Linked DNA regions of Homo sapiens: all the other regions are linked to region 3. The links come from fine-mapping of genetic effects on gene expression. A gene starts in region 3. Each other region holds a variant in brackets. All regions are shown on one strand. Distances are between the middles of the regions. Region 1 overlaps FAM83E (family with sequence similarity 83 member E). Region 2 overlaps FAM83E (family with sequence similarity 83 member E). Region 3 holds the start of CA11 (carbonic anhydrase 11).

Region 1 (2,751 bases), 37 kb after region 3:
GGACGGCGAGAGGGTCATCTCAGGATCCTACAGGTGTAGCCCCCGCCCCGCCCCCCACCTCCCGGCGTCCTATACCCCACTTTCCCTCAGTGTGCTCAGAGAACAGCTGGCATCCCCTTGCCCAGGCCTCTCTTTTCTCATCTGTGTAATGGGGGCAAAACACTCTTCCCTGCGGAGGAGGTTGGTGCCGCGGCCGGACCTGGTGCTGGCCTGTTTAGTGGTCTTGGGTAAGTCTGCTTCTCTTTGACCTGGTGTTTTCTTATCTGGAAAACTGGGCAAACAGTTTGGGGGTGGGGTTTGTTCAAAATCAGGAGCACCTGGATTGGGATCTAAGCTCTGCCTCGGGTAAATAACTCCACCTCTCTGAGCATCTAAGAAAATGCCCGGACATGGTGGCTCACGCCTGTAATCCCAGCACTTTGAGAGGCTGAGGCGGGCAGATTGGCTGAGGTCAGGAGTTCAAGACCAGTCTGGCCAACATGGTGAAACCCTGTCTTCCCAGCTACTTGGGAGGTTGAGGCAGGAGAATTGCTTGAACCCAGGAGAGAGGTTGCAGTGAGCCGAGATCGCGCTGTCGCACTCCAGCCTGGGAGACAGAGCAAGACTCCATCTCAAAAAAGCAAAAAAAAAAAAAAAAAAAAAAGAAAGAAAGAAACTGCAAATAATAACAGCACCTACCTCACAGGGTCACAGCACAGCTAGGGAGGAGAGGGGTGTGGCCTCTGGGACCAGACGGCCTGGATTCAAATTCTAGCTCTCTCAGTTCCTCGTTGTGTGACTTCAGGCAACTTACTTCACCTCTCTGTGCCTCAGTTTCCCCCTCTATGTCATGGGCTGATAGGGTTAGAGCCTCTAGAACCAGGTCCCTCAACAGGGGTGGCACCCACGCTCGGGCTGGGTAAGTCTTTGTTTTAGGAGCTGTTGGGTGCATTGTGGGAGGCTCCTCGGCATCTTCAGCCTCCACCCAGCAGAGGTCAGTAGCATCACACGCCCCATACCCCCGACTTTCCCTGCCAATTAGAGAACCGAAAACCTCTCCAGACAGCGCAGATGCCCACTGGGGAGCACAGGTGCCCAGCTGAGAACACTGCTCAGGAACAGTGGCTTTCAACCCTGTGCATGCACCAGAATCCCTGGGAGCGCTTGTTAAAACACAGCTTTTGGGCTGGGCGTGGTGGCTCACACCTGTAATCCCAGCACTTTGGGAGGCCGAGGCAGGTGGATCACCCGAGGTCAGGAGTTTCAGACCAGCCTGATTAACATGGGGAAACCCTGTCTCTACTAAAAATACAAAAAATCAGCCGGGCCTGGTGGAATGCATCTCTAGTCCCAGCTACTCGGGAGGCTGAGGCAGGAGAATCGCTAGAACCTGGGAGGTGGAGGTTGCAGTGAGCCAAGATCGC[G/A]CCACTGCACTAAAGCCTGGGTGACCGAGCGAGACTCTGTCTCAAAAAATAAAAAAAAAAAAAAAAAAGGAAAAGAAAAAGAAAACGGAAAAAGGCCAGGCGTGGTGGTTCATGTCTGTAGTCCCAGCACTTTGGGAGGCTGAGGCAGGAGGATCGCTTGAGCCCAGGACTTCAAGACCAGCCTGGGCAACATAGCAGGACCCCATCTCTACAAAAATTTAAAAAAATAAAAATTAGACATGATGGAGCATGCTTCTAGTCCCAGCTACTCAGGAGGCTGAGGTGGGAGGATTGCTTGAGCCCAGGAGGTAGAGGCTGCAATGAGCCAAGATTGCACCACTGCACTCCAGCCTGGGCAGCAGAGCAAAACCCTGTTTCAAAAAGAAAAAGAGAGAACAATACACAGCTTTTGGACCCCACTGCCATTCATCGTGCCTGGAACAGGACCTGAGAATCTGCATTTTCAGGAAGTTCCCACTTGCTGCTGCTGCTGTTTCTGGTCCAGGGACCACACTTTGAGAATGATTGGAGTTGAGACCAGGATGTTTGAAATGTTTGAAAGAGTGTTTACCTTCCCAGCTTGGTGTGAGGATTCAGTGGCACGTAACGTAAGACAGGCTTGGCCAGGTGCCGTGGCTCATACCTGTAATCCCAGCACTTTGGGAGGCTGAGGTGGGAGGATCACTTGAGCCCAAGAATCCGAGACCACCCTGGGCAACATAGCTGGACCTTATCTCTACAAAAAGAAAAAAAAAAAAAGGAAAAGAAAAAGAAAAGAAAACAAAGAATGCTCCATGAACATCAGCTGTCATTTATTATGATATATATATATTTTTTACCATATTTCATGGACTCTAAAGTGCTACCAATGGAGAGAAGCATCCTGATTGAGATGTGAGAAGCTCTGCGTCTTAGAACCAGTGGAACAGAGTAATACAATCAAACCCACGGGCCGTGCTCCCCTGCCGCTCAGTCAGGCCTGGGGATGCTTCCCCTAGCACCGGGCTCCTGGTGGACAGCCTTAGAAGGGATGAAGCCAGGGCCGCAAGAGGTTGTCCAGGGCCTCTCTGGCCATTTAGTGGGGGAAGGACATGGGGACATGGGGAGTGGCGGATCTGGGAGAACAGTCCCAGGCCCTGTCCTCCCTGTTGGTCACAGCAAACGTGGAGGAAGCAGCATACCCAGCCCCAGTGCCAGGCTGGTGGTGGCCCCCACTGTCTGGCTGCTCGGGGCTCTGTTACACAGGCGGCCGGTGCAGCAGTTGGTGGTGAGGCTGTAGGTGACGCCCCTGTAGCTGACGGGTTCCTCAAGGCCGCAGCTGGTGGCTCGCAGGCAGCCTTTGTTGATG
Region 2 (2,751 bases), 33 kb after region 3:
TTGGTGGGATTGGAATGAAGGGCTTCTGGTTTGCAGGGATCAAGGGTCCAGGGTCCCCGAGGTTGGGTCAGGAGCCTCAAGGGGATAACTGAGGCTTGGGAGGGAGACAGGGCGAGATAGAGACTGGCCCCTGTCCGGGAAGAAGCGTCCGGGTAGCTGGCAGGAGATAGCATTTAGGCAGAAACCAGGCTGGGGGCAGCTTGGGTAGGGCTCCCCGCAGATCAGAGGACGGCCTGGAACAGGTCCCAGGGCCAGGCCCCAGGCAGGGGCAGCCAGCCTGAGGAGGGTGGCTGGTTAGGTGGCACTCACACCTAGATGGGCTGTGAAGATCATAGACCTGTCCCATAGTAATGGAGACCCCTGTAGCGCATTTCACCCTCCACTGCAGCAGCTGGAAGGAGTGTGAGGAGGGTCCAGGGAGCAGGGTCCCCCATTGACAGGGTAGGGAAGGGTTTGCCAAGCCTTCGGCCTTTAAGGCTGAGCGAGCAGGCCCAGTGGAGAGGCATCCTGGCTGGTCTGCGGGTGAGAGCTGATGAGCAGGAGAAACTCGTGGGGGCTGTCAGATTTGGCCAGAGACAGATGCTCCAACAGGCAGATACTGTGACTGTCAGTCGGAAGCCATTGGCGTTTGCCAGACAGTGGAAGGAGAGGGTCAGTTCGTCGTGCTCTTGGCCGGGGGCAGGCAGGCAACCTGTCGTGCCTTTAAGGACCTTTGGGTGATTAGAGACAGGCAGGCAGCTTGCCGCCTGGAAATGATCAAGTGGTCAGCCTGACCAAATTCAGGACAGCTGAAGGGTCTGACTGGGCACTGTGTGACTGGTGGGTTGGAGGCTGTCGTGTGGCTGAGCAGAGATGGCCAGCTGATGGGTCACACAGTTGGGGATGGTGTCAGGAGGTCAACCTGACCAGCAGAGACGGCTGGCAGGAAGGTCACGGAAGGCCAGCCAGGCATGGTGCCACTGGGTGCAGGCAGGTGGCGGATCTGAGTGGCCTGACACATTGGATGGTCGCTTATTTGGGCAGCGTGATTGTCAGAACAGTGTGGCAGGGGCTGCTGCAGGGAGCCATTTGGACATCTGCAGGGCCCCGCCGGAGGCCTCGGATGGCCACGTAGGGTCTGCCTATCAGGAGAACCCCCAGATGATCACAGTCCCCAGAGACAGCCAGACCCCCGGGGACCCAGCCTCTCACAGTCAGTCCTCCCACCCGAGTGACCCCGATGGCGGCCTCCCAGCTGGCGGCGCTGGAAGGAGTGGACTCCGGTCCCAGGGTGCCCGGGGCCAGCCCCGGCTTTCTATATTCCGAGGGCCAGCGGCTGGCACTGGAGGCTCTGTTGAGCAAGGGCGCGGAGGCGTTCCAGACCTGCGTGCAGCGCGAGGAGCTGTGGCCCTTCCTCAGTGCGGATGAGGT[T/C]CAGGGCTTGGCAGCGGCAGCTGAAGACTGGACAGTGGCCAAGCAGGAGCCCAGCGGGATGGCAGAGGGAGCCACCACCACCGATGTGGACGCGGGCAGCCTGAGCTACTGGCCTGGGCAGTCGGAGCAGCCGGCGCCCGTCCTGCGGCTGGGCTGGCCAGTGGACTCTGCGTGGAAAGGCATCACCCGGGCGCAGCTGTACACCCAGCCTCCTGGAGAGGGTCAGCCGCCCCTCAAGGAGCTGGTGCGGCTGGAGATCCAGGCTGCCCACAAGGTGGGTGTCGCGGGGGCCCTGTGTCCATTCACCAGACTGGGACGGGGACCCAGGCATTCTCTCCCTTGTCCTCCTGGGACTTGCAAGCGCACACCCCTACCCTAAAGGACCTATACCCCTGGGACCCAGGAGTGCACACCTTCCAGCCCCAGGACTCAGGTGCCTACAACCCCAGACCTCATCCTTACTCTCAGAAAGGGGGGCCCGGCCGGGCGCGGTGGCTCACGCCTGTAATTCCAGCACTTTGGGAGGCCGAGGTGGACGGATCACGAGGTCAGGAGTTTGAGACCAGCCTGGCCAACATAGTGAAACCCCGTCTGTACTAAAAATACAAAAATTAGCCGGGCATGGTGTGGGCGCCTGTAGTCCCAGCTACTCGGGAGGCTGAGGAAGCAGAATTGCTTGAACCCGGGAGGCGGAGGTTGCAGTGAGCCAAGATCAAGCCACTGCACTTCAGCCTGGGCGACAGAGCGAGACTCCATCTCAATAAAAAAAAAAAAAGAAAGAAATGGGGGCCCCTACCCTCCCCCAAGACCTGGATGCCCTTAGGTATCGATGCCCCTTGAACCTAATTATGACACCCCCAGTCTCAGTCATTCCCCCATCCCCTCATCACCAAGCCAGGGGTTTCCACTCTCCCTCCAAGGAAGGCCCAGATGTCCACACTGCAGCCCTTGGAAAGCCTGCTGTGTACTTCACAGCCTTAGCGTCCGCCAGCTCCCACGTGAAGGGTTTCTCAGGGACTAATGTGCATCATCGTCCCGGAACCCTGTACCGCCAGAGGGACTATTGTGCCCACGGAGGCACGGGGGCGGTTAAATCTCTTCCCTGTAAGTGGCCGAGTGGGGATTTGAACCCAGGCTGTCTGGCTGCTGAGTCAGGGTTTCCACTGCTTTATGCTGCCTGCAAGATCCAGGCCTTCAGCACCTCCGTGTCCCCCAAGTTCGCCACGGTGGCCTAGCAGGTCAGCCGTCCTGCACCCAGCACCCAGAAAATTCCACAGGACCCAGAAATGCAGTTGCCCACAGTGCCCTACGGGACATCCACCACTGATCCTACAGCCAAAC
Region 3 (2,751 bases):
ATGCTTTGGGAGGCCAAGGTGGGAGGATCCCTTGAGGACAGGAGTTTGAGACTAGCCTGAGCAACATAGCATGACCCCATCTCTTCTCCCCAAATACAAAAATGTGGTGTCTCTCTCTGTCTTTGGATCGCTCTTTCTCTCTTTTTGTCTCTCCCCACCCCATCTGCTGCTTGGTCTCTGAGTTTCTGTCTATCTCTAAGTGTGTGTCTCTATGTCTCCATGTCTGTCTCGCTGCGTCTCTGTATCTCCTTTTCTGCCTCTATCTGTATCTCTCTCATTCATTCCTTCCTCTCTCCCTCCCCCTCCTCCTCTCCCTCCTCCCCCTCCTCTCCCTCCCCCTCCTCTCCCTCCTCCCCCTCCTCCTTCACCTCCTCCCCCTCCTCCTCACTCCTGCCTGGCGGTTTGTTCTTGCCTCTCTAACCTTCTGTCCCTCCGCCCTTCCTCTCCGTATCCATCTCAGGCTCCCTTCCCCTCCCCAGCCTACGCAGATGTGGGTCCTCACCTCCCGCTCTCCGCCTCTGCCCTCCCGGCTCCTCCTCCCCGCCCCTCTCTCCCTCGCCAGGTCTCTGCCTCCCCCTCCAGGCGAGCAGCCCTCACTGCACTTCAGGCTCCTAGGGGATCCCCCGGCCCCGTTAAGGCAGCCCCAGGCAGAGACCCAGTGGAGCCCTGGGGCGGGGAAGGGGGGCTGCGGGCGCTGGGGCGGCTCCAACCTGGGTCCCAGCGAGCAGGGGGACCCTGCATCCGCCAAGGCCGGCGGCCCCCAGCATGGAGACTTCCGAAGCCACTCCCAGCTCCACCTTAAGCGCCCCCCCTTCCCCTTGCTGCGGAGGATGGAAACAGCCTGCTCCCGGCCCCAGGTGTCCCGGCCACCCCCGCCCGCGTGGCCCCAGCGCGGCTGGGAGCCGAGGACCAGCCCCCTACCTCCTTCCGAATCCTGCCCTTTCGCACATCCCACCCCAAGCCAACCCGAGGAGTGTTTGCCGCTATGAGATCACCTGCTCCCCCAGCCCAACAACAAAATTAAATAACACCACGGGAGAGGAGAGAGGGAGGGGGAGGAGGGAGGAAGGGACAAGAGAGAAGAGAGACTGAAACAGGGAGAAGAGGCAGGAGAGGAGGAGGTGGGGAGAGCACGAAGCTGGAGGCCGACACTGAGGGAGGGCGGGAGGAGGTGAAGAAGGAGAGAGGGGAGAAGAGGCAGGAGCTGGAAAGGAGAGAGGGAGGAGGAGGAGGAGATGCGGGATGGAGACCTGGAGTTAGGTGGCTTGGGAGAGCTTAATGAAAAGAGAACGGAGAGGAGGTGTGGGTTAGGAACCAAGAGGTAGCCCTGGGGGCAGCAGAAGGCTGAGAGGAGTAGGAAGATCAGGAGCTAGAGGGAGACTGGAGGGTTCCGGGAAAAGAGCAGAGGAAAGAGGAAAGACACAGAGAGACGGGAGAGAGAAGAAGAGTGGGTTTGAAGGGCGGATCTCAGTCCCTGGCTGCTTTGGCATTTGGGGAACTGGGACTCCCTGTGGGGAGGAGAGGAAAGCTGGAAGTCCTGGAGGGACAGGGTCCCAGAAGGAGGGGACAGAGGAGCTGAGAGAGGGGGGCAGGGCGTTGGGCAGGGGTCCCTCGGAGGCCTCCTGGGGATGGGGGCTGCAGCTCGTCTGAGCGCCCCTCGAGCGCTGGTACTCTGGGCTGCACTGGGGGCAGCAGGTAAGACCTGGGGTTCCCGGGAGGAGCCCCCGAGGGAGGGTGGAGGTGGGGATGCCAAGGAGAGGGATTCAGGCTGCTCTCTTCCCAGCTCACATCGGACCAGCACCTGACCCCGAGGACTGGTGGAGCTACAAGGATAATCTCCAGGGAAACTTCGTGCCAGGTGCCGCCAAGGCGGGGACCCAGGAGTCCGGCCCTCCCGGCGCCTCCTTCTTCAGACTCAGGAACCTGGGTTCCCAGCTCCCTCCTCCCCCCCAGGACCAGGAGTCCCAGCCCCCTCCTCTGTCCCTCAGGAGTCGGGCCAGCTTCTGAACCCCAGGGGCTCACCATGGGACATTATACATGCGCATTTCAAGTAGTGAGTGGGAGTGAGTGGAAGGAAAGTGTGGGGGTGGAGATTATGTGTGTGTTTGCCGGGAGAGGAAGGTCCTGGCTCCTGCTAGGAACCAGAGGCTGGGTGGCCCCGTCCCCCACCTTGTCCAGCCTTCTCTTGCAGCTCCTCTCCCCAACACATTAATAATAATCCAGCTGTGGGATAAGAGCGATTAAAAAAAAGAACTACAACTCCCACGGGGCTCTGGGGCAGGTAGGCAGCAGAGGGGTAGGCTGGTAGCACTGGGGCCTGCTGGGAGTTGTAGTTCCATCTACAGTGGCTTAAGATGGGTTTGATCGGCTGGGCGCGGTGGCTCACGCTTGAAATCCCAGCACTTTAGGAGGCCGAGGTGGGTGGATTACCTGTGGTCAGGAGTTCAAGACCAGCCTGGCCAACTTGGTGAAACCCGTCTCTGCTAAACTTGGAAACTATTCCAAGATTCTTCTAGGACCCAGAATTCTGGATCTGAGCCCAGTCCTCCCTCAGACCCAGGAGTCTAGGTCCCTAGCCCCTCCTCCCCTGGGATCTGGGAGTCCAGACCACAGCCCACTCAGCAGATACCAGCCCTGGGATCCAGTCTCTATTTCTGACTCCTTGTCCTCCTACTCCGACCCCACCCCCAGGGCCTCCTTTCTGGGGCCTGGTGAATGCAGCGTGGAGTCTGTGTGCTGTGGGGAAGCGGC

The links. PIP is the estimated chance that this variant, and not a neighbour inherited with it, causes the effect.
Region 1: its variant is fine-mapped to the expression of CA11 in whole blood (TOPMed, PIP above 0.99).
Region 2: its variant is fine-mapped to the expression of CA11 in whole blood (INTERVAL, PIP 0.99).

What each region holds. Positions count from the first base shown.
Region 1 is chr19:48,607,158-48,609,908 of GRCh38, reverse strand. FAM83E (family with sequence similarity 83 member E) reads left to right here. Exons shown (of 7, transcript NM_017708.4): 5 at 1-33. It overlaps SPACA4 (sperm acrosome associated 4), which reads right to left. Exons shown (of 1, transcript NM_133498.3): 1 at 2,195-2,751. The coding sequence ends at 2,556. Among named protein-coding and RNA genes, the nearest start is that of SPACA4, 1.8 kb to the right of the region's middle. The variant G/A (reference allele first, on the strand shown) is at 1,404.
Region 2 is chr19:48,611,841-48,614,591 of GRCh38, reverse strand. It overlaps FAM83E (family with sequence similarity 83 member E), which reads left to right. Exons shown (of 7, transcript NM_017708.4): 3 at 1-1,684. The coding sequence starts at 1,220. Among named protein-coding and RNA genes, the nearest start is that of FAM83E, 1.9 kb to the left of the region's middle. RefSeq lists enhancers at 1-32, 1-100 and a silencer at 405-581. The variant T/C (reference allele first, on the strand shown) is at 1,411.
Region 3 is chr19:48,644,510-48,647,260 of GRCh38, reverse strand. CA11 (carbonic anhydrase 11) reads left to right here and starts at 1,074. Exons shown (of 9, transcript NM_001217.5): 1 at 1,074-1,695; 2 at 1,784-1,858; 3 at 2,692-2,751. The coding sequence starts at 1,629. It also overlaps the pseudogene SEC1P. RefSeq lists silencers at 456-865, 896-1,085 and enhancers at 1,043-1,743, 1,744-2,444, 2,445-2,751.